2 separate regions of the Homo sapiens genome follow, and region 1 is linked to region 2. Evidence: fine-mapped expression QTL. A gene starts in region 2. The other region holds a variant in brackets. All regions are shown on one strand. Distances are from middle to middle. Region 1 holds the start of LINC01872 (long intergenic non-protein coding RNA 1872). Region 2 holds the start of IGLON5 (IgLON family member 5).

What was found.
Region 1: its variant is fine-mapped to the expression of IGLON5 in cerebellum (GTEx, PIP 0.97).

Annotation. Positions count from the first base shown.
Region 1 is chr19:51,264,656-51,275,510 of GRCh38, forward strand. SIGLECL1 (SIGLEC family like 1) reads left to right here. Exons shown (of 6, transcript NM_001385465.1): 3 at 713-994; 4 at 1,122-1,227; 5 at 2,718-2,874; 6 at 3,916-4,675. The coding sequence ends at 3,942. It overlaps LINC01872 (long intergenic non-protein coding RNA 1872), which reads left to right and starts at 6,611. Exons shown (of 3, transcript NR_136526.1): 1 at 6,611-6,917. It overlaps LOC107985327 (a long non-coding RNA gene), which reads right to left and starts at 6,512. Exons shown (of 4, transcript XR_007067309.1): 1 at 6,364-6,512; 2 at 5,508-5,589. The variant T/C (reference allele first, on the strand shown) is at 3,356.
Region 2 is chr19:51,304,998-51,316,422 of GRCh38, forward strand. IGLON5 (IgLON family member 5) reads left to right here and starts at 6,647. Exons shown (of 8, transcript NM_001101372.3): 1 at 6,647-6,929. The coding sequence starts at 6,851.

The sequences.
Region 1 (10,855 bases), 41 kb before region 2:
TTCCCTCCTAATCCATGATATTCATCAAATGGCCACCATGTCCTACCTGTTCTAAATAGAGCGAGGCAATTTCCAGCATTCTTACACAGAAGATGCCATAGTACATTTGGCTTCCAGTGAATGTTCCACCAAAGACCACTTGAGACCGGGAAGAAGGAAATTAAGAAAGGTGTTCTGTTTATTGAATGGGTAATACTTCACTACGCACTGAGCTGGGTGCACTGCAAATCTTGGGGCATTCATTCTTATAACGATGATAATATGAGATAGGTTCAGCAAATATCCCGATTTTCCAGGCTAGGAAACAGCAATGATAAGGGGAGTGACTTGCCCAGCAGCACCCAGACAGGAAGTGATGGAGGGAGAATTGGTCATAGAGCCTAAGAGGAACATTGCAGGTGGGAAGAAGAGAAGCAGAGTAGGAGGTCTGGCTTGGACTTCTAGCCTTGCAGGGTAGGTGAGGGATCACAGACAATGTAGAGCCTCAGGAAATTTACTTGCCACCCCTCAAGAAGGTCTAGCGATCAGGTTCAGGCCAGATGAGGACAGAAGATAGAGGGGAACTGGTCTGGGAGGCCTGAATCCTGTGGGCTTCCAGAAAGTCCTTCTGAAGCTCCTTGTGAATAGCAAGTAAAGAGAAGGCTGCATGCTGGAGAAACTGGAAGAGGGAAGCCAGGATGCCTTGCTGACTCCTGACCCTTCCTCCCCACAGTACCTGCTAAGCTGCTCAACTCCTCTTGCTCCTTGGAGAAGACACTGCAGTGCAGCTGTTCCTTCCATGGGATTCCCACACCCTCTGTGCAGTGGTGGATGGGAGGAGTCCCCGTGGGTGTGGATGGCATGGATGGCAGCCTCCAAGTGACTTCCACCATGCTTGGCCCCTGGGCTAACAGCACCATCAGCCTAACTGAAGAGCCAGAAATGGGCATGAGACTTCTCTGTGAGGGGAAGAACCAAAACGGAACCCATGCTTTGAGCATCCTACTGATGTCAAGTGAGGGTGGAGGGGGCTCGGTGACTGGGTGAGGACAATAAGCGGGATGGGGACAGTCACTGGGGCTAGAGAATGGAGCAGAGTTTTGGCTCCGATGCCAAACTTCTCACATGCTCTCTGCTTCCAGGAAAGAGTTCTTTGGCTGCCCAGGCCTTCGTGAAAGGGCTGATCCAGGGTGCTATCTATGCGGGAATTGTAATTGCGCTGCTCTTCCTCTGCCTCCTCCCTCTCATGTGAGTACTAGGGTTAATATTCACCCGCAAGCCTACTACCGGGCAGGCCCTGGCTGCAGCCCTGGCACAGAGAGAGCAAAGACAGGACCCCTCCCCTCAAGGAGCTTAGGGTCTAAAGAGGGAAAGATGTACCAAACATGGTCACCACAATCCAGGGCCATGAGGACTATACAGAACCGTAAAACTGTGTCATAAAACAGACACTTTGAACACATTTTATAAAGGAGAAGACCAAGAAGGGACTTGGCAGCCCTGGAAAAGGCAGCAGCGAGTCCCCGGGGTGCTGTCTGTGGTGGGCCTGCAAGGGTTCAGTACTCGTTAGCTTGGTGGAAAGTATTAATAGTACAGGTTGAGTATCTAATCCAAAAATCCAAAATCCGAAATGCTCCAAAGTCCAAAAGTTCTCGAGGCACCGACATAATGCCACAAGTAGAAAATTCCACACCTGACCTCATGTGATAGTTCAATGCACACAAACTTTATTTCATGCACAAAATAATTTTAAATATTATATAAAATTACCTTCAGGCCATGTGTATAAGGTATATATGAAACATAAATGAATTTTGTTTTTATACTTGGCTCCTATCCCCAAGATATGTCATTATGTATAAACAAATATTCCAAAATCTAAAAAAAAAAAAAAAAATTGAAATCTGAAACACTTCTGGCCCCAGGCATTTCAGATAAGGGATATCTAACCTTTGTATGCAGACGCCCAGAGGCATGTTTGAGGCATTTCCAGTGTCTTTGTATAATGTCAGGTGCATTGAGAGTACCAGGTAATGGCTAAAAATGAGGTTGAAAGACATCCTTGGTGTTGGTTCACAGGGTGTTAAAACTTAGCTGCATGTATTAGCTAGAAGCATGGAGTGGGAAGGGGTGAGTTGCAGGAAGTCAGGCCAGAGAGACGGGCAGGGGAGCCTGTCCAGACAGCTTGGACTGAATCCTCATTTCGGAGCCATGGAAGAGTGCTAAGCTGTGAAGGAAAGCTTGAGCTTGGGGTGGGACACAGATTAGAGAGAGTGAGAGCCAGAAGGTCAGAGGCCAGGCAGGAAGCTGGTGCAGGGGACTAAGCAGGAAATAGAAGGCCTGACCTGGGGCAAGTGATGAGGGGCAGCCAGAGAGGTGGGACTTGGGCATGGCTGGCTATGGGGAGACAAAGATGAGGAGTGAGGTGTCAGGGCAAACTGAGGAGCTATTTTCAAAGTATAATCAACAGGACTTGAAGACCAGTAACAATCTCTCTGCCAGTTGCAAGGCCCTTTCTTAGCTGACCTCATCTGAGCCCCACAGCCTAATAAGCAGGGTATCCCCCTTATTCAGAGTGTGAAACTAATTCCCAGAGAGGATGTGTGGCTTGCCCTAGGTCATACAGCAAGCTGGTACTGTTGTTGAGGCTCTAAATCAGAAGTTCTGGTCAAGATAGAGCCCATTTGGGGATTCAGGGAGATGGAGAGCCAGAACCAATCCAAGGCTTATTTCCTTAGAGTGAAACATATCAGAAAGAAGCAGGCGAAGAAAGCTGCAGCGATCAGAGCAAAAAAGAGCTCTAAAGTCAGAGCAAGCCAAGAACTTGAGATGTCTCTGAAGCCTGAGGAACCAGGAAAACCCGTAGTCGCCACATTTTCTGAGAGCCGGATATTGGTATGTACCTATTGTGTCTGGAATCTAGTCTATCGGAATACTGATAATAAGACCCACAGGGAAAGGAGCACACAGTGTTTTGAAGGTGTTATCATCCTCAGTCTTGCAGGATACCTAATGCTAGAGTGTGCTTTCAGGTCATTTTATAAATAGGAAGCTAAGGCCCAGAGAGGAGAAGGATGAAAGTTAAGAGAAACAATTTAAAGAACAATTAAAATCAATTTACACGCACACACCATTACATTGAATCCCCACTGAAAAGGCAGTTGGGGAAAATCCTAATAGCAGTTGTAGCATCAGAGTGGAAACCAAGGATTTGGCCTCTGAGTGTATGGCCGGCAGCAGTCAGCTTGGTGTAGATGCCACAGGCCAAGTCAGCCTGAAGTGGTTAGAGATTAGGCCAAGCCCAGGTTACTCCTTCATTCACCCTGTACCCCACATCTTCAGCAGGGCTTGGAAGATACAGTGTCCGAGGTTGCTA[T/C]GCCTCACTGTTATTTACCGTTTATGATTCTCCAGAATCAGAATTATCCTGCTGCCCTCCTAACACCCTGCATGAACAGTTGGTGTCCTTTTGTAGATAAGCCATCTGTTAAATTCCACCAATATTTCCTGCAATATCTCCTAATCTTTGTGCTCGACAATGCTGGGGTCTCAGAAATGGGCCAAACCTAGGCCTTGTCCTCAGAGAGCAACTAGACTGGTCGAGAAGGCACCTTCACAGTAGGGGATGCTGAGCCAGGAGTTACGGTGGTGCAGAAGAGGGAGGGACCAAACCTACCTGAGGAAGTCAGGCAAGATTCCCTGAGGAGTCTAAGGAACAGTCAGTGTTATGGGTACTGAAGATGCACAGAGAGGACCAGATGGAGAAGACCGAGTTGCAGGCTTTAACCATGGGGTTGTGAGGAAGGGCTAAGCCAGTGCTCACTCCATGTTGCCTTAATTCTGTGCACAAGGGGGTGTCTTTTTAAGATTTGGATACCTCACCTCTAGACCTGTTCCAACATTCTTTTTTCTTTGTTCTATTTTGCACCTCGCTTTCAGGAAAAGCAAGATAAACGAGCCAGCTAAGCCTGTGGAACATGCCTCATACCTGGAGTCGCCATTATCCCTGGAATTACAAAGATCTGCAAAATTTATAGCGCTCACAGAAACCCTGGAGGCTGTAATAAACCTGGAGCCCCCTGGACTCTCCTCAGCTCACAAAACCCTCTCAATTCCTACACATCCCTTAACACTCATTCTCCATTGAATAGGTGGTTACTCTTAGACCTAGTCTTAGAACCTCTGAAGACACACTTTGTAATTTGTTGTTTGGCTAAATGAGAAGAAATCTGTGCCACCCTGGGAAGGTGTCAAAAGAAGGAAAAATACATGTGACAATATGAATCAAGTCCATCAGCAAGTTACTTTTGAGCGCCTACTGTGTGTCAGTGCCTGAGATACACCTACAAGAGCGCCAGGCTTTCAAGCCTTCATATCTGGATAGAATCCCAACTTCAGTGCTTGGTGGCTGTCTATCTTTGGACAAGATCTTTCATTCCCCATCCTTTGAACATCACATGACCCATATCTGGGTGGAGAATGGGTGAAAAGTACTGTTCAGAGATGCAGGTGAGAAAAAACATGACGATGGGCCCTGAATGCCAAGATTCATTGGAGCTTTGGAGCTTTATCTTGTAGGACCTTATCCTGACTCCCTTAGAATGTAAGTTCCAAGAGAACAGGGACTTTGTCTGCCTTGTTTTCTACTTTTATCACCAGCACCCAGAATGATGCCTAAAATACAATAAGATCTCAAGAATGTTTGTCAAATGATTTAATTAATTATAAGCTGTTTTAAGGTTTGAAGCAAGCAAGTAGAGTGACCAGATATAGACAGAAAAATCATTTCCGTACCCTGACCCCACATATGATATATTTAGAATGGGTAAGGCTGGAGGTAAAGATGCTAGTTAGGAGGTTATCGCAATAGTTCTTGGCCAGATTGAAAGGCAGGCATGCAAGGAATGGGAAAGGGATTCTGGCATTAGAATGAACCACAACTATGTATTGTTCCTCTCAGAATGGATGACAACCTCCTTTCTAGCCAGATGCTAGTAGATTTTTTTTTTTTTTGAGATGGAGTTTTGCTCTTGTTGCCCAAGCTGGAGTACAATGGTGCAATCTCGGCTCACTGCAACCTCTGCCTCCCGGGTTCAAGTGATTCTCCTGCCTCAGCCTCCCGAGTAGCTGGGATTACAGGCACACACCATCACACCCAGCTAATTTTTTATAGTTTTAGTAGAGACAGGGTTTCACCATGTTGGCCAGGCTGGTCTCAAACTCCTGACCTCAGGTGATCCACCTACCCCGGCCGCCCAAAGTACTGGGATTACAGGAGTGAGCCACCGTGCCTGGCCAGATGCTAGTAGTTTTCAGTAGGTGGAAAGAGGGTCATCTCTTCCCTGGGGCAATATTTGTGGGTAAATACAGTGATCCTGTAGCACCAGCTAGATGGTCATCTTATACTCAGGGTGGACGTTTACGTTAGCCCCCACATGTATAAGCACCTCTCACAGGCAGTTCACATTTCACAGAAATATCAGATGTGCCACCATGTGCCAGATAATGAGGGGAAGAAGTAAGACACTCACCCTGCCTCCGTGGAGTCATGGTCTACATAGACAGACGATGAAGAAATGCAGACGAATTTATAGCTTAAAATGTTGATAAGTGCTAGAAAGAAAACAGGACAGAATACTATGAGAAAGCACAGGAAAGGAAGCTAGGTTGGATTACAGAGTCAGAGAAGGCCTCTCAGAGAAAGTGACACTTGCCTTGAGACCTATAGGATTATTAGGAGCTGGCTAGACAGAGGGAGCAGTAGATCCTAAGCTCTGACATGAGAACAGTTTGGTGAGTTCAGGAGCCCAGAGCAGGCCGCTGTGACTGGAATTGACTGAGGGATGAGCTCCTGAAGGGCCAGAACTTGCAGGCCTTCCAGGGCTCTAGTGGGAAGTTTAGGTTTTGTCCTCACTTATGGAGGGTTATTTCCTCTTATGCTTTGTAATTCTGGAAAGTGCAGATTGTTTGAGAATCACATCCAGTGGAGCTGTGTGAGAATCCTGGGCAGCAGAGGTTTTGAGTTGAGGATAGAAGCCTCTATGTAACAGGTTTGGTGTTTGCTTCTACTAAAGATACATCCTCTGTTTGGGAGGGAGAGGCAGACAAGGCTGGGGAGAGGGAGAGTGCCAGTGTTGGGAAAGAAGAGAAAAAAATGTAGAAAAGGAATAGGAGAGAGGATAGGGATCGGGTTGGAGATAGGTCAGAGATGGGTTTGGGAATGGGAATAGAGAGGCTGGGCTTCATCGTGTGTCTTGTTTTCTCGGTGATAGGGGCCTCGCGTGCAGGACAGGAAACAATGAGTACACAGGGTGCCTTCTGACCAGCCCTGGGGTCCAGCACTAGTCATTTTGTGCCTTAGTTAATGCCTTGACTTCCCGCACATACCAGGTTGAGAGAGGAACGTCCCTTAGCAACTGATTGGCCTGGAGTCTAGAGGACTGGTGGGGGTCTGGAACCAGCTGCCCAAGGAAAACGATTCTCCCAATGTCCGGGGGACGCAGTAGCAACTGTTGCTTCTGACTAGCTCAGGCTCTGGAGACCCGCGCGCTCTCTTATGCGGCTGCGCATCCCAGCAGCTCCCGCGAGAAGGGTCAGGCCCTGATTGGCTCTGGACAAACCCGCGCGAGCTTGCGGGGCGGGGCTTCAAGGGATTGGTATCCCCGTGCAAGGAGGTTGGCGAGGCCTCAGGGGACTCCCAGTTCAGCGAATCCGTTAGCCTTCCTCTGCCTTAGTCACTTCCCCGTGAGGCACTCCGTGTTTGTGTACACGGTTATTCCACGTGTCAGTCAGTTCATCGGGCGCATCCGGAGTCATTGAAAACAGTAATAGGAAGTCAAACAAACCCGCTTGATGCAAAAATTCAGGAGGACATTCGGTTTTTAAGGAAATAGTGCTGAGGAAGGACCAGGCTGGAGCTCCTTGGACCCTGAGACTGGGAGGTAAATATGGAAAAAGAAGTGATAATTTAGGGGGAGGGAAAAGAGATCACCTGTGAAGAAAACTCACGCACACACCAGGGCCTGGAGAAGGAAGTGAGACTGGAAAGAGATCAGAATTTTATTTTTATTTCATTATTTTATTCATCTATTTAATTTGAGACAGTGTCTTGCTCTGTCACCCAGGCTGGAGTTCAGTGGCACAATCTCAGCTCACTGCAGCCTCGACCTCCCAGGCTCAAGCAGTCCTCCCACCTCAGCTTCCAGAGTAGCTGCACCCACAATGCCGGGCTAATTTTTTAAATTGTTTTGTAGAGACAGGGTGTCGCTGTGTTGCCCAGGCTGGTCTCAAACTTCTGGGCTCAAGCGATCCTCCCACCTCAGCCTCCCAAAGTGCTGGGATTACAGATGTGAGAGATCAGAGTTTTTGAATCTGAAGGACCCTTACATAGTCTGCAGTAACCCTCCCATTCTACCGAGGAGGAAAAAGAGGGGGAAGCAGAAAGGGGACAGAACTTGCCCAGAGCTATCCAACGAGTTACTGGCAAAGCCCCAGTTGGAACCAGCCCAGAGCTCTTCCCAACCTTTGATTCGAGGTTGTAAATTAAAGGAGGAGGAGGAAGGATTTTGATAGTGAAAAAAAAGCAAAAGTGGGTTATGATGCAGAGATAGGATTTGTTATCTGGAAGCCTGAGTAGCATCTTGATGTAAGGAGGGAGTCGTTTTTTTAAGAGAGGCAGCGATCAGAATGGAAAAGCAGAGGGCTGGTTCTTGAATCAAAACATCACTGAGAAAAGAGATGAGTCAAGAGCGGTCACAAATTAAATGCTGAGGGAACCAGGCAGGTGATGTGAATGATAAACAGTTGCCTAGCACTTATTTTGTGCTGGCCTCTGTTCTGAGGGTTTTACATGCATTCATTCATTTAATCATTTAATGCTCCCAACAATTCTGTCAGATGAATCCTGTTAAAATCTACATGTTATAAGTGAGGAAACGGGAAACCCAGAGAGGGGAAGTAATTTGCCCACAGTCACACAGCTGGCAAATGGTGGCGCCAGACTTAAACTCAGGCAGGCTGACTCAGCACACGGTCTTAACCACTGTGTTATATGCCCCTCCCAGGTGAGTGCAGCAGGGAGAGCAGGGGCAGCAATGGACTGGAGAACAATTGTCCAATATTAAAGGGGAAAGTTAATATCTGCCATGTGTTGTCAGATCTAATTTATTAAAAAGTAGCTGGGAGTTCAGACTTTTATGTGAGGATCCTGATTTTTAAACATTGCAACTAATGAAAGAAAGTCTGTATGCAGTTTTCTTAATGCAGGCTAAATAAAACCCCCTGCATTTTAACTACCTCACAAAGCCACTAATTTGCAAACTCTAGACTATCTTAAATGAGGAAGCAGTTCCCTAGTGAGGGAAGGGCCTGGCCCAGAAAAACCTAGAAAATGGGAGGCAAAGACCAAGCCTTTGGACTGCTGGCCGTCCACTCACAGAAGAATCTAGAACCCTTCCTTTGAACTGGCTTCACATCCAAGTTGTATGGGTTTCCTGTTGCTTTCATAAGAATTACCACAACTTGGCCGGGCGCGGTGGCTCACGCCTGTAATCCCAGCACTTTGGGAGGCCGAGGCGGGCGGATCACGAGGTCAGGAGATCGAGACCATCCCGGCTAAAAACGGTGAAACCCCGTCTCTACTAAAAATACAAAAAATTAGCCGGGCGTAGTGGCGGGCGCCTGTAGTCCCAGCTACTTGGGAGGCTGAGGCAGGAGAATGGCGTGAACCCGGGAGGCGGAGCTTGCAGTGAGCCGAGATCCCGCCACTGCACTCCAGCCTGGGCGACAGAGCGAGACTCCGTCTCAAAAAAAAAAAAAAGAATTACCACAACTTTAGCAGCTTTTTTGTTGTTTGTTTTGAGACCAAGTCTCACTGTGTCACCCAGACTGGAGTGCAGTGGTGCAATCTCGGCTCGCTGCAACCTCTGTCTCCTGGGTTCAAGCTATTCTCATTCCTCAGCCTCCCAAGTACCACCACACCTGGATAATTTTCTAAAAATATTTTTAGTAGAGACAGGGTTTTGCCATGTTGCCCAGGCTGGCCTGGAACTCCTGGCCTCATGTGATCCACCTGCCTTGGCCTTCCAAAGTGCTGGGATTATAGGCATGAGCCACTGGGCCCAGCCCAATTTTAGCAGCTTTTAAAGTAACACTCATGTATGATCTCACAGAAGGTCAAAAGTTCTGGTGTGGCGTGGTTCCCCTGGTTTTCTGCTCCAGCTTTCACAAGGCCTGAATCACAGTGTTGGCAGGGCTATGTTGCTTTCTCGAGTCCCTTTGGATGAACCCATTTCCAAACACATTCAGAATCAGTTCCATGCTTTGTAGTAGTGAGGTCTGCATTCCCTTGCTAGCTGTCTGCTGGGGTCATTGTCAGCTTCTAGGAGCTGCCCTCATGGGCTCGTGGGTTCGTTCCTTCATCTTCAAAGCAAACAATGGTGAGTCAAATCCTTCGTATGCTTCACATCTCTCTGACCTCCACTTCTGGCTCATGTATGCCCTTTCTTTCTCCTGAATCTCTCTGACTTTTCTGCTTTGCAAGTTTCACGTGATTACATTACATTCACTCAGATAGTGCAGGATGATCTCCTCAATTTAAGATCAGCAGATTAGTCACCTTCACTCTATCAGCAAAGTCCCTTCACTCAGTCAGCAAAGTCCCTTCACTGAAGCACGTAGATTAATGTTTAATTGAATAACCAGGGCACAGGAATCTTGGAATGGGAGACATCTTTAGAATTTTGCCTACCACACAAGTCGAGGGGGAAGACATTTGTAACTCATATGGTGCAAAACTATATGCTTTTCCCACTGTCTTTCTCAAACCTTGTGAGGTGGACAGGACAGTTTGATTTATTCCCATATTTTATACATGAAGCATGGGACTCAGAGAGGAGAAGAGGCTTCAACCGTGATGACACAGCAGTTCTGAAGGCAGCCTGGCATACCGGAAAGAACACTGGGTTCGGAGTCCAGGGACCTACATTATGACTTCAGGATGTCCATTTCTTGGCCCTGTGAACCTGACTAGTTCCTATGCTGTTCTGGGCCTCAGTTTCCTTATCTGCGAAGTGATGCATTGAGAACTACATCACAGTGCTGTTGTGAGATTGAGAATGATAAAGTATGTGAATCTCCAGTGCACAGCACATGGGCCACCATGATTGTTCGGTATTATTTATTTATTTATTTTAAGGTATCTGCAGAGCCACAGCTAGAACCCAGATTTATTTATTTATTTATTTATCTCTCTCTCTTTCTCTCCCTTTCTCTCTCTCTCTCTCTGTCTGTCTCCCAGGCTGGAATGCAGTGGCACAATCTCTGCTCACTGCAGCCTCTGCCTCCTGGGTTCAAGTGATTCTCATAACTCAGCCTCCTGAGCAGTTGGGACTACAGGCGCATGCCACCACGCCTGGCTAATTTTTGCTTTTTAAGTAGAGAAGGGATTTTGCCATGTTGGCTAGGCTGGTCTCGAACTCCTGGCCTCAAGTGAGCTGCCCGCCTTGGCCTCCCAAAGTGCTGGGATTACAGGTGTGAGTCCCCGCGCCTTGCCAAAACCCCAAATTTCTTGGTTCCAAATCTTCTTTCATTTGATAAAGCTTTATTATGCACCAGCTGTGTTCCAGATTGTGTGTTGGGTACTAGAGACACAAAAGTGACTCAGACTTGACTTTGAAAGGTGGACTCCATTATGTCACATAAAGGTACCTTGGGCATGACACACAAAGGCCACCCAGAAGTGGTACACAAAGGTGATTCCAACATGACACACAAAAGATATTTGGACATGACTAATTTTCTCAAGGAACTCACATTCTGGTCAGAATAGATACAGAGTTACTTCCCTGCGTACTGTGAAGGGGCAGAAGCTGACCAAGGA
Region 2 (11,425 bases):
GCTTGGATGACAGAGCCAGACCCTGCCTCAAAAAAAACAAAATAGTAAATGCCACTTCTATGGGACAATTGGGTTGGTTTTACTAGGACCACTGCATCAGGTAGGAGAAAAAAATGAGGTTATATCTGGAAGAAAGAAAAAAATATATAGTCATTATAGCAACTTGGTAAGAATTGCATAGCCACACCAGCATTCTCCCTACCCCCACTTTCCCAGGTCAACCAGAAAACAGGAAAGTCTAGTGGTGACGCTCCTCTAGTCCCATCAGGTTGAGTGTGAGCACACAGGAGGGCATGTAAGCCAAATCTTCCTGTTTTTTTTTAAATTTTTATTTTTATGGGTACATTAAAAAAAATTATGGCTACATCCTTCATGCTTTTATCTCCCCTGTTTTTGACAACCAAAGTTTTAATTGCTCATTCCACTTCTTGATCAAATTATTACCCAAAGGACAGCTCTCTGCCCATTGCTGGACATTATGGGCTAGACAGTGTGTTCCTTGGTCGGAAGAAATGACGGCAGCCTGTGCAAATGTGTGTAATATATTCTGTTCTGATTCTTTTACAGCACTCTGAGCATTTGCATCTTCCACTGGGTAAGCAAAGGCCAGCCCAGAGTCAGCGTCTATTCCTGTCAAGACCCATTTGTAGCCCCCCAGGGCTACCAGCATCAGCCTCACTTGCCAGCTGTGCTTGGGACCTTCCCACCAGGGAATCTGGCCCATAGCCATCTGCAGCTTCTGTCTCTCCTGCTGGCAAACAGAACAGTTCTTATTGGCATTATGTGCCTGAGAGGGTGCAATAGAAACATATTTAGATTCAGCCCATCTCTGCACTGCTGCAGTGCCCTCATGTCCTCTCATTTCATGCACCCAGGTGGCCACCCAGTGAGCACACAGGGATATCTGCTTGTCGATTTCAATCACCTTCCAGACCTGGAAGAGAGCTCTTCTGGTGGGCATTGACATGTCCTACCTTAAGGACCCCTCAAATTTCCAAAGGGCTGTGTGTGTCCCATATGGACATCCCTTTAATAGGCTAGGTTTCCATTATCCACCTGCTTGACTATATGGCCAAGCCATTGGCCACTGCCTGTGAGTCAGTAAAAACCCACACGGAAGGGCTTTTACCACTGTTCAATTCTTCAGCATGCAATTCAGCTCACTGGACGGATTTGTTTTTATCTTCTTTGATCAGAATGGCATCCTTCTAAATAGAACGTGGTCTTTTCATCTTGGCACTGTCATCTGCACACCAAGCAGCTCTTTGTTGGCTAGTTGAGAGCTGTTTATAGGGCACTGTCCAAGTGGCAGTAGGATCCAGCTGCTCCCCATACGCTTCCAGAGTCAGTCCGAGGGAGAAAGAGGCTCCTTTTTTATTAGTATCTCCTCCTTGCATTCCCTAGGTAGCATGATCCTGTATAAATCATTTCTAATTTATTAGGGGACTCTTCTGGGCATTTTAATCTCCATTAGAGTGTTTTTAAACATAATCCAAGAGATTATTGGTATTTCAGGCTTCAAGATCATTTTATGTCCTCAGTCATAGGGGTAGCTTGAATTAATATCCCATAGAAAGTAGTATTATGCTCTTCAAATTGAAATTCTGTAGTCCAGAGTCTCAGTAGTTGTCACTGGAAGGTGCTTATAGGCTGTTCCCATAGGCCCCAGTCTGGGTTCCATACAGGGCTCTGTCTCAGAGAATTTGTCCATAGCATCACTCTGTCTTCTATTCTACATTTTGTGGGCTCCAGAGATCTGACTGGTTCCTATTTAGCATGTCCAATTAATATTGATTAAAGGCAGATTTACATGGCTTTTGTTTCATAATGCTAGGTATGGGAAACATTTCCCAGTCTGATACAACATCCATCCCCATAATATAATCAGGTAAAATCACTTCAGAGAAAATGTGTTCAAATATACCAACTCTCCTATAAAGGTTTATCTTAATTCCACCAACCCTCACTTTCCTAACTGTAGCCTCTATTAGAACTTTATCAATGGTTTTTGGTTTCACAATACTACAACCCTTAAATTTTTACATTCTCTCAATCTAATCCCAAGTCAGGACTTCACCAATGGATGTTGGTACCATAGTCAGTGGACCTCCCATATCAAGGAGTCCCATGAATTTCTCTTCTGCATCCCTGATCATTTTGTCCACTTGTGTACATAAGGCTTTAGGTCCCCATCAGGGCGTTGAGCAAAAGAACTCTTGCTTGTTGGTTAATCTTTATCTTGATTAAACTGCCAGACTATTGCCCCAGAAAATTTCAGATCAGATGTCTTATTTTAATCTTTGCTTTCTGACTTTTAAAATTTCTCCAAACTAAGGTAAATACAGCAAACTTTTTTGGAACCCTTTAATGTTAGGGAACCAACAAGTACTCCCTTTGGCCCACCCAACCTTAAATAGTATTATATTAAGACTTTTGTTCTAACTCCATCAATTTCTGTTTTACTCATCCCACTTCTGACACCAAATCTGAGGCTATAGGGAAGACAACCAAAGTGCTTTTTCTATTCTCTCACTTAACAATCAACACTTCTCTTTTGATTGGTGTCACCAAGAATTGTGTAGGGATTTCTCCCCACCAGCAACCAATTAATCAGTTCTGCAGTGGACACGAATTGGGTGTACTCCAATTCAATCCTCATACATCTACCTGGACTTCACAGCAGATCCCACAAGTTGAGGGCTTGGTCCCACAAGACTGTCCCCCACTTCCAATGCCAATTGTAGGCTCCAGGTTCTTTACCTGTGCTTCTGACTGACCAGCTATAAATTGGGGTTCCATAACACCTTTCTCTTCAATTAATTTTTTAGAGCAGCTCAAAGAACTTAGAAAAACACTTATGCTTACCAGTTTATTATAAAGGATATTACAAAGGATACAGGTGAAGAGACGCACAGGGTGAGGTGCAGGGGAAGGAGAATGGAGTTGCCATGCCCTCTCCAGGCATGCCACCTTCCAGGAACCTCCGTGTGTTCAACTGTCCGGAAGCCCCCTAAACCCAGTCTTTTGCGGTTTTTTAATGGAACATTCATTACATACGCATGATTGATTAAATCATTGCCCATTGGTGCTCCACTTAACTTTCACTCCCTCTCCCTTCCACAGAGGCTGGGAGATGAGCTGAAAGTCCCAACCTTTTAATCATGCCTTGTTCTTTCCTGTGACCAACCCCCATACTGAAGCTACCTGGGGCTTGCCAGTGGACGTAGCGGGGGTGTTATGAAGACCAAATATATATTTCACAGTATCACACATTTATAGCTCTTGGGATGTAAAAAATTCTCCATGTCTCTTTGTCCTCACCTGTGAAATAGGGATAAAGATAAGTGCTGCCTCAGAAGGGTGTCATGATGCTTCAAGGAGATAATATGTACAAAGTGCTTAGAAAGATCCCTACACCGAGTAAGCACTCATATTTTATCAGGCATGGGATGGGCCATTTCAGGAAGAGGGAGCTCCTGTTCTCATCCTAAGTCTGAACGGTCCGGAATTCAAAGAGGATCAATAAATGGCCTTTCACCAGGATCACAATGGATTTTGTAGAGTGGTGGGCTGGCAAGCTGATTCAGTGTTCACCATTGCTGTGGTGTAAATCCTCCCAACATGGCCAGTTTCAAGCTAATAATGGTTTAACACCTGGCTTGCACAATTTCTGAAAATTTAATAATCAGCTCTTTTGAGCCAGTGCAAGCCACCTGCAGAACACCATTAACTTTTGCATCACCCAGTTTTGTGAACGCAGGCAGGTCTCTTCCTCCCTCTGTATCTTACTTCCCTCCATCTCTCCAAACGGAGCTAAGCCATCCGACTCACTCATGCAGTACGTATTTATTTGAGTACGTACTACATGTCAGTCACTAGGTTGGGCTCTGGAAATCCAGCCTTGAACAAAAGCAGACCAAAACAAAAACAAAAAACTCCGTGAAGCTTACATTCTGGAAGTGGGAGTAGGGGGAGAGCAACTAAAAATAACAGTGAAAGAAGGAAATCGGCCGGGCGCAGTGGCTCACACCTGTAATCCCAGCACTTTAAGAGGCCGAGGCGGGCAGATCGCCTGAGATCAGGAGTTGAAGACCAGCCTGACTAGCATGGAGAAACCCCATCTCTATTAAAAATACAAAACGAGCCGACTGTGATGGTGCATGCCTGTGATCCCAGCTGCTCAGGAGGCTGAGGCAGGAGAATCACTTGAACCCAGGAGTTAGAGGTTGTGGTGAGCCAAGATCATACCATTGCACTCTAGCCTGGGCAAGAAGAGCAAAACTCTGTCAAAAAAAAAAGAAAGAAAGAAAGAAAGAAAGAAAAGAAAAGGAAAAGGCAAAAGAACATTGTTAGTGCTATGAAGAGGTATGACGTAGAGTTATTGTGCTGGGAGTAGCAGCTACTTTGGAAACTATGATCAATGAAGGCTTCTTAAAGGGGAGAAGATGAGCCTTAAATAAGAAAGAGTCATCTGCCAGTGTGGTAGGAAGAGCATTCCAGCGAAAGAACGGCAAGTACAAAGACCCTGGGGCTGGAATTGTTCGGTTTGTTTAAGGAATGGAAAGAAGGTCACAGCGAGCTGAGTGATTGAGGCAGGGAGTGGCCCTAGCTGGTCCAGGTGTTTAGTGGTGGTTGTTCTGAAGGTGGAGGCAAAGGTAGAGGCCAAGAGAGTAGAGCATAGGCTGCTACAGCCAGAGTCCTACAGGGAGAGGTGGTGAAAGCTCAGACCAGGATGGGAGAGTAAGAAAAGGACAAAGCAGAGATTTGTTTTGGAGACAGAGCCAGCGGTTCTTGCAGACAAATTGGATGTGAGTGGAGGGGGAAGGAATTGAGGATGGATATGTTTCTGAGGCAGAACAGCCCCTACTGGGTAACTTCAAAAGCTCCTGCCTTGAACTGCTACAGAAATAACGTAGACTCAGAGATTATTTTGCTCCTGCGTATGCCAAGGGGACGGGAACAGGAGGGTGGAATACACCTAGTAAACAGATGCAAAGTGGAAAGGGGAGGGAGAAACTCACTACAGGTTTTTGAGGTGCTGGCTGGAGCCAGGAGCTGCTCCAAGATCTCTCATTCTTCTCAATAACCTTGGGCAATAGGGAATTTTCCACCTTGCAGGGGAAGACGCTGAGGTTCTGGGAAGAGAAATGGCTTGTCCAAGGTCACACAGCCAAGTCAGTGAAAGAACAGGGAGCCAGGATGTTTTGCACCTAAACCCTGGATTATGGTTTCCTCCCCACCTGCTCCCCCAAGATAAGTCCCCCAATCCCTTCCCATTGCCTTATTATACTGGGGATGAGGGTTGGGGTGGAGGAAAAAAGCAAATTTCACTCCAAAAGTCAGTGTTTTCGTTATCCATGAAAATAGATGGAAAAGCTGAACTGTGGCCCACAGGAAGAGGGGCCTGGGGGCCTGGCCTCCTGGGTCTGAGGGAGGAGGGGGCTGGGGGCCTGGACTCCTGGGTCTGAGGGAGGAGGGGCTGGGGGCCTGGACTCCTGGGTCTGAGGGAGGAGGGGCTGGGGGCCTGGACTCCAGGGTCTGAGGGAGGAGGGGCTGGGGGCCTGGACTCCAGGGTCTGAGGGAGGAGGGACTGGGGACCTGGACTCCTGGGTCTGAGGGAGGAGGGGCTGGGGGCCTGGACTCCTAGGTCTGAGGGAGGAGGAACTGGGGACCTGGACTCCTGGGCCTGAGGGAGGAGGGGCTGGGGACCTGGACTCCTGGCTCTGAGGGAGGAGGGGCTGGGGGCCTGGACTCCAGGGTCTGAGGGAGGAGGAGCTGGGGGCCTGGACTCCTGGGTCTGAGGGAGGAGGGGCTGGGGGCCTGGACTCCTGGGTCTGAGGGACGAGGGGCTGGGGGCCTGGGCTCCAGGGTCTGAGGGAGGAGGGGCTGGGGGCCTGGACTCCTGGGTCTGAGGGAGGAGGGGCTGGGGGCCTGGACTCCTGGGTCTGAGGGAGGAGGGGCTGGGGGCCTGGGCTCCAGGGTCTGAGGGAGGAGGGGCTGGGGGCCTGGACTCCTGGGTCTGAGGGAGGAGGGGCTGGGGGCCTGGACTCCTGGGTCTGAGGGAGGAGGGGCTGGGGGCCTGGGCTCCAGGGTCTGAGGGAGGAGGGGCTGGGGGCCTGGACTCCTGGGTCTGAGGGAGGAGGGGCTGGGGGCCTGGGCTCCAGGGTCTGAGAGAGGAGGGGCTGGGCCTGGACTCCTGGGTCTGAGGGAGGAGGGGCTGGGGGCCTGGACTCCTGGGCTGAGGGAGGAGGGGCTGGGGGCCTGGACTCCTGGGTCTGAGGGAGGAGGGGCTGGGGGCCTGGACTCCTGGGTCTGAGGGAGGAGGGGCTGGGGGCCTGGACTCCAGGGTCTGAGGGAGGAGGGGCTGGGGACCTGGGCTCCTGGGTCTGAGAGAGGAGGGACTGGGGCTAGTCTCCTAGGTCCATGGGAGGATGAGATTGGGACTTGAAGGAGGAGGGAGCTGGGTTTTAGGAAGTATCCCAGACTCCGTGTTCTGCGGATGTGGTGGAAAGACGTGGGGACGCCTGGGGCGGGAGGGGTAGGGGCCGGGCCGCAGTAACAAAGGCCTCTCCCTCCAACAAGCAACCCCCCCTTGACCCCGCCTCCCCGGCCCCCCACCTCTCCTGATTGGCCGGTCTCCCTGCCCGTCAGCGCCGCCCCCCTCCCCGGGTCTGCAGCAGCTCCAGCCGCCTCGTCGCGCCCCCCCAGCCCCCTCCCCCCGCCCCCGCCGCCCCCCGGGCCGGTGCAGCGCAGGCGGGGTCCCCCTCCCCCTCCCCCCTCTCCCCCCAGGCCTCGCGCGCCCCGGACCGGCCCCCCCTTTCCCCTCCCCCTCCGCGCCGCCTCTGCCGCGATGCCCCCCCCTGCGCCCGGGGCCCGGCTCCGGCTTCTCGCCGCCGCCGCCCTGGCCGGCTTGGCCGTCATCAGCCGAGGTACCGCAGCGCCGGGGGCGGGGGGCTCGGCCGGGACGCCAGGGTCTTGGGTGGGTAATCGGGGGATCAGGGGTGGGGGTCGAGGGCTGCATCCCTGGGCCGGCGCGGGGAGGCCCCGGGACGCCGGGGTCTGGGCCCGGGGGTGGGGTCTGCATTCCCTGGCTGGGCAGGGGGACCTCGGACGTGGGGGTCCGCGCCCCGGGGCAGGGGTCGGCGTCCTCGGGCCGGAGCCGGGTCTAGGGGCGGAGGTCTGCTTCCCCGAGCAGGCAAGAGGGTCGCAGACACCTAGCCCTGCCTGGGGGCAGGAGTCTGCGGCTCCTGTTGAGGAGGGGGCAGACACTGGACTCGGGGTCCCCGGGTCGGATCTCCGAACTGAGTTGGGGTGGGGGGCAGGGGATAATGCCCTGTTAGGGGTCTTCATCTGTACGTGGAGAGGGTCCCTGAAGAGGTCCTTGCCGGGGGCTGGGGTAGTCATCTCGGGACAGAGGTCAGGGGATGGATGCCTTCCCAGGGTCAGTAAGAGGAGGGGACAAGGGTGTCCACAGACCTAGTCCCAGGGTCAGGAAAAGAGGGGAAGGGTCTGAAATCCCCCAGCAGGGTCATCTAGGTTGAGAGAAAGTGTTGGTACTTGGGGAGGTTGCAGTTATGTGGGGGAGAAGGGAGCTGGAGATACAGGAAGTTGGGGTGCTGGGCTGGGGTCTTGGATTCCCAAGCTCTGATTGAATGTCTAGGTTCGTGGGGCTGGACAGTGGAAGAGCGATGGGCATGGGAGGATGAAGGAAAGACGGAAGGGAAGGGTTAAAGCAGGTTGAAGGGTTAACCCCGGCCCGGCCCGGCCCTCCCAGTTGGGGAGAGGGCCAGGGGCAGGTTTCTGCACTGAGGTTAGATAGCTGGACCTTGAGTCTCCCCAGTAGGGCCTGGCAGGCAGGGGGTGGTCAAGGAGATTCCTAGATTTCCCCCTAAGAAAAGGGAGGAGAGTGCAAGGAGGCAGGAGGCTGGAGGGTGGGCGCTCAGGAGGGCAGGGAGCTGGGTTAATTCAGACTTTCTGGAGGATTCCCCCAGGCCCTCCCCTGAACAAAGAGTTCCAGGGACAACCAAGAACCCCGACAGAGTCCCCAAGAGTCTCAGAGAGGCCGCCCGCATAGACCAAGTCTGGCACAGAAACCCCGTCACAGCGTCCCACCCGAAGCAGCACCTGCAGACACCAGTCACACAAACACAGCCCCATCCACGCAGGACGCAGGGACCTGGTGGGCCACAGCCTCAGTCCCTTGCTAGTCCTCCCCCGTCTCCCACCTGACCAGTCTGAATCGCCCTCTGACTTTCTGACCACCTGTCTCTGTCTCTGTCATGCATCTCTTTAGGTCTTTGTGTCCCTGCCATTTCTGGAGGTTCCCATCCCTTCCCATCTCTGTTATCCACTGCTGACTTTCCACCTGCCTCTGTCTCTGGGTCATTGTCTCTCCATCCCTGCTGCTGACAGCACAGTTCCACATCTGTCTGTCTCTGCTTTTCAGACTGTTGCCCATTGCATGACTCAGTCTCTTGATACTTGCTTGCTTCCTCACTTATGCCTTAATCTTCATTAACTTCTCTCATTTCCTTCTCTCATTCATTTCCTTCTTGTTCTGACCTACCTTTCTCTTTTTTCTTTCTCTTTCCTTCTTTCTCTTTCCTTCTTTCTTTCTTTCCTTCTTTCTCTTTTTCTCTCTCTCTCTCTTTTTCTTTCTTTCTTTCTTTCTTTCTTTCTTTCTTTCTTTCTTTCTTTCTTCTTTCTTCTCTTTTTTTCTTTCTTTTTCTTGTTTTTTTGAGACAGGGTCTGACTTTCTCACCTAGGCTGGAGTGGAGTGGTGCAAGCATACACAGCTCACTGCAGCCTCAATTTCCCTGCCTCAAGCGATCCTGCCACCTCAGCCTCTGGAGTAGCTGGGACCACAGATGCACGCCACCACACCTGGCTAATTTTTAATTTTTTTTCTTTGTAGAGATGGGGGTCTCACTATATTGCCCAGACTAGTCTCAAATTCCTGGCCTCAAGTGATCCTCCCACCTGGGCCTCTCAAAGTGCTGAGATTACAGGTGTGAGCCACTGCACCAGCCACCTCTTCTTTCTTTCTCTCCTTGTCCTTATCTCTTGTCTTCTTCTTCCTCCTCTTCTTTCCCTGATCCTGTACCCTTTGTGACCTTTCCCCCACTTTCCTGTTTCTTCTCTCCCTCCCCTTCTCTCTCTCACTGCAACTTCCCATTTTTCACATTCACTATTTTTTTTTTTTTTGAGGCAGAGTTTTACTCTTGCTGCCAGGCTGGAGTGTAGTGGCATAATCTCAGCTCACTGCAACCTCTGCCTCCCGGGTTCAAGTGATTCTCCTGCCTCAGCCTCGCAAGTAGCTGGGACTACAGGTGTGTGCCACCACGCTGGGCTAATTTTTGTACTTTTAGTAGATACAGGGTTTCACCATGTTGGCCAGGCTGGTTTCGAACTCCTGACCTCAGGTGATCTGCCCACCTCAGCCTCCCAAAGTGCTGGGATTACAGGCATGAGCCACTGTCTGGCCCCCACATTCATTCTTAAAGTCCCTATAAATCATTACGGGGCTAGACTGGGGCAGGAAGCTGTGGCAGAGCCAGGAGGTGGCTTGTGACCCTGCTCAAGTCTTTTCCCATCTCTGGTCTTAGGTTCCCCTTTTGAGAACTGGGGACGAGAGGGGATGGGGTGGGGTTGAGACAGAACGAGATGCCAGAAAGACACCCCCACCCACCCATGGATAGTTTGAGCTGTCTGGGAAAAAAAGCTTATGGCAAGATATGCAAACTAGCATCTTCTCTCTTCTTTTATTCATGATCTTGTCCAAGTTACAAGAGGAATACACTGCAAACAGTCCGCCTCTGATAAGGGCAAACCCCATTGTGCTCCTGCCCTGCCACCACTCTCACAACCACTGTCTTGAGAGAACCGGTCTGTGGCTGGAGTGCATCCTTCCATAGCTTTCTCTCACTTCTGCAGACTTAGACACGACACACAGAGGACAACATAAGTGATGGATTGGTTGGTTTGTTGATTTTTTTCCCCCAAAATAGAAACAAAATAAGCCCATTTCTCTGCAATCGGCCTTTTCCCACTTAACCATACCTCCCTTACATCCATAAATATTCATCTATCTTCAATTCTTTTCTAAATCTTTTATGCCAACACACACGCACCCCCTCACATATACATATTTATTTACAAAGCAGCTACATTGTGGTATTTTAAAACAATTCAACAAAATCAAATGGCCGCTTCTGCAGCAGCAAATGAGGTGGGTGGTTCCTTTGCTTCTGGGGCAGCTAGCAGAGTGATGATGGTCAGGAGGGGGCAGGAGCCCCAGATTTGAGTCCCAGCACTGCCCCTGACAAGCTAGCTCTCCCCAGGACCTCTGAGCTCCAGGTTCATCTGGCTTGTGGGCTGTGCTTGGTTGTTGGTTCATATAGCAAATGTTCTTGGGGACCAGGGCCGCTATTCTAGACACTGGATATATACATATGGCAGTGAGTGAACCAGGCAGTCACTGTCCTCACGGAGCTTAGATCATAGTGGGATGGAGAGAGATCAAAGACCAAAACCAAAACCTAAAGACAAACAAATAAAAGATAATTTCAGAGAGTGATGAGTAATGTAAAGAAGATAAAAGTGACTTGGCCTTTGAAGCTCAAGTGGTTGAGGAAACCATCTCTGAGCAGGGGAGAGTGGAGTTAAGACCTGAAGGAAGAGGGAAGTCAACCTTTTTTTTTTTTTTTTTTTTTTTTTGAGACAGAGTCTTGCTCTGTCGCCCAGGCTGGAGTGCAGTGGCACTATCTCAGCTCACTGCAAGCTCCGCCTCCTGGGTTCACACCATTCTCCTGCCTCAGCCTCCCAAGTAGCTGGGACTACAGGCGCCCACCACCACGCCTGGCTAATTTTTTGTATTTTTAGTAGAGATGGGTTTCACTGTGTTAGCCAGGATGGTCTCGATCTCCTGACCTCATGATCCGCCCGTCTTGGCCTCCCAAAGTGCTGGGATTACAGGCGTGAGCCACCACGCCCCGCCGGAAGTCAACCTTTCAAAGTTGACAGCAGAGGTAAAGACCTTGAGGTGGGACCAACAGAAAGGAGGGTAAAGCTGGGCGCAGTGGCTCACACCTGTAATCCCAGCACTTCAGGAAGCCAAGGCAGGTGAATCACCTGAGCTCAGGAGTTGAAGACTAGCCTGGGCAACATGGGGAAACCCCATATCTACAAAAAAAAAAAAAAAAGCCAGGCATGGTGGCACGCACCAGTAGTCCCAGCTACTCAGGAGGCTGAGGCAGGAGAATCGCTTGAGCCTGGGAGGTGGAGGTTGCAGTGAGCCAAGATGGTGCCACTGCATTCCAGCCTGGGTGACACAGTGGTACCCTGTCTCAAAAAAAAAAAAAAAGAAAAGAAACAAAGGGAAAGAAAAGGTGTGTCTAGTTTCAGGATTCTTGGCACAGTGTCTGGA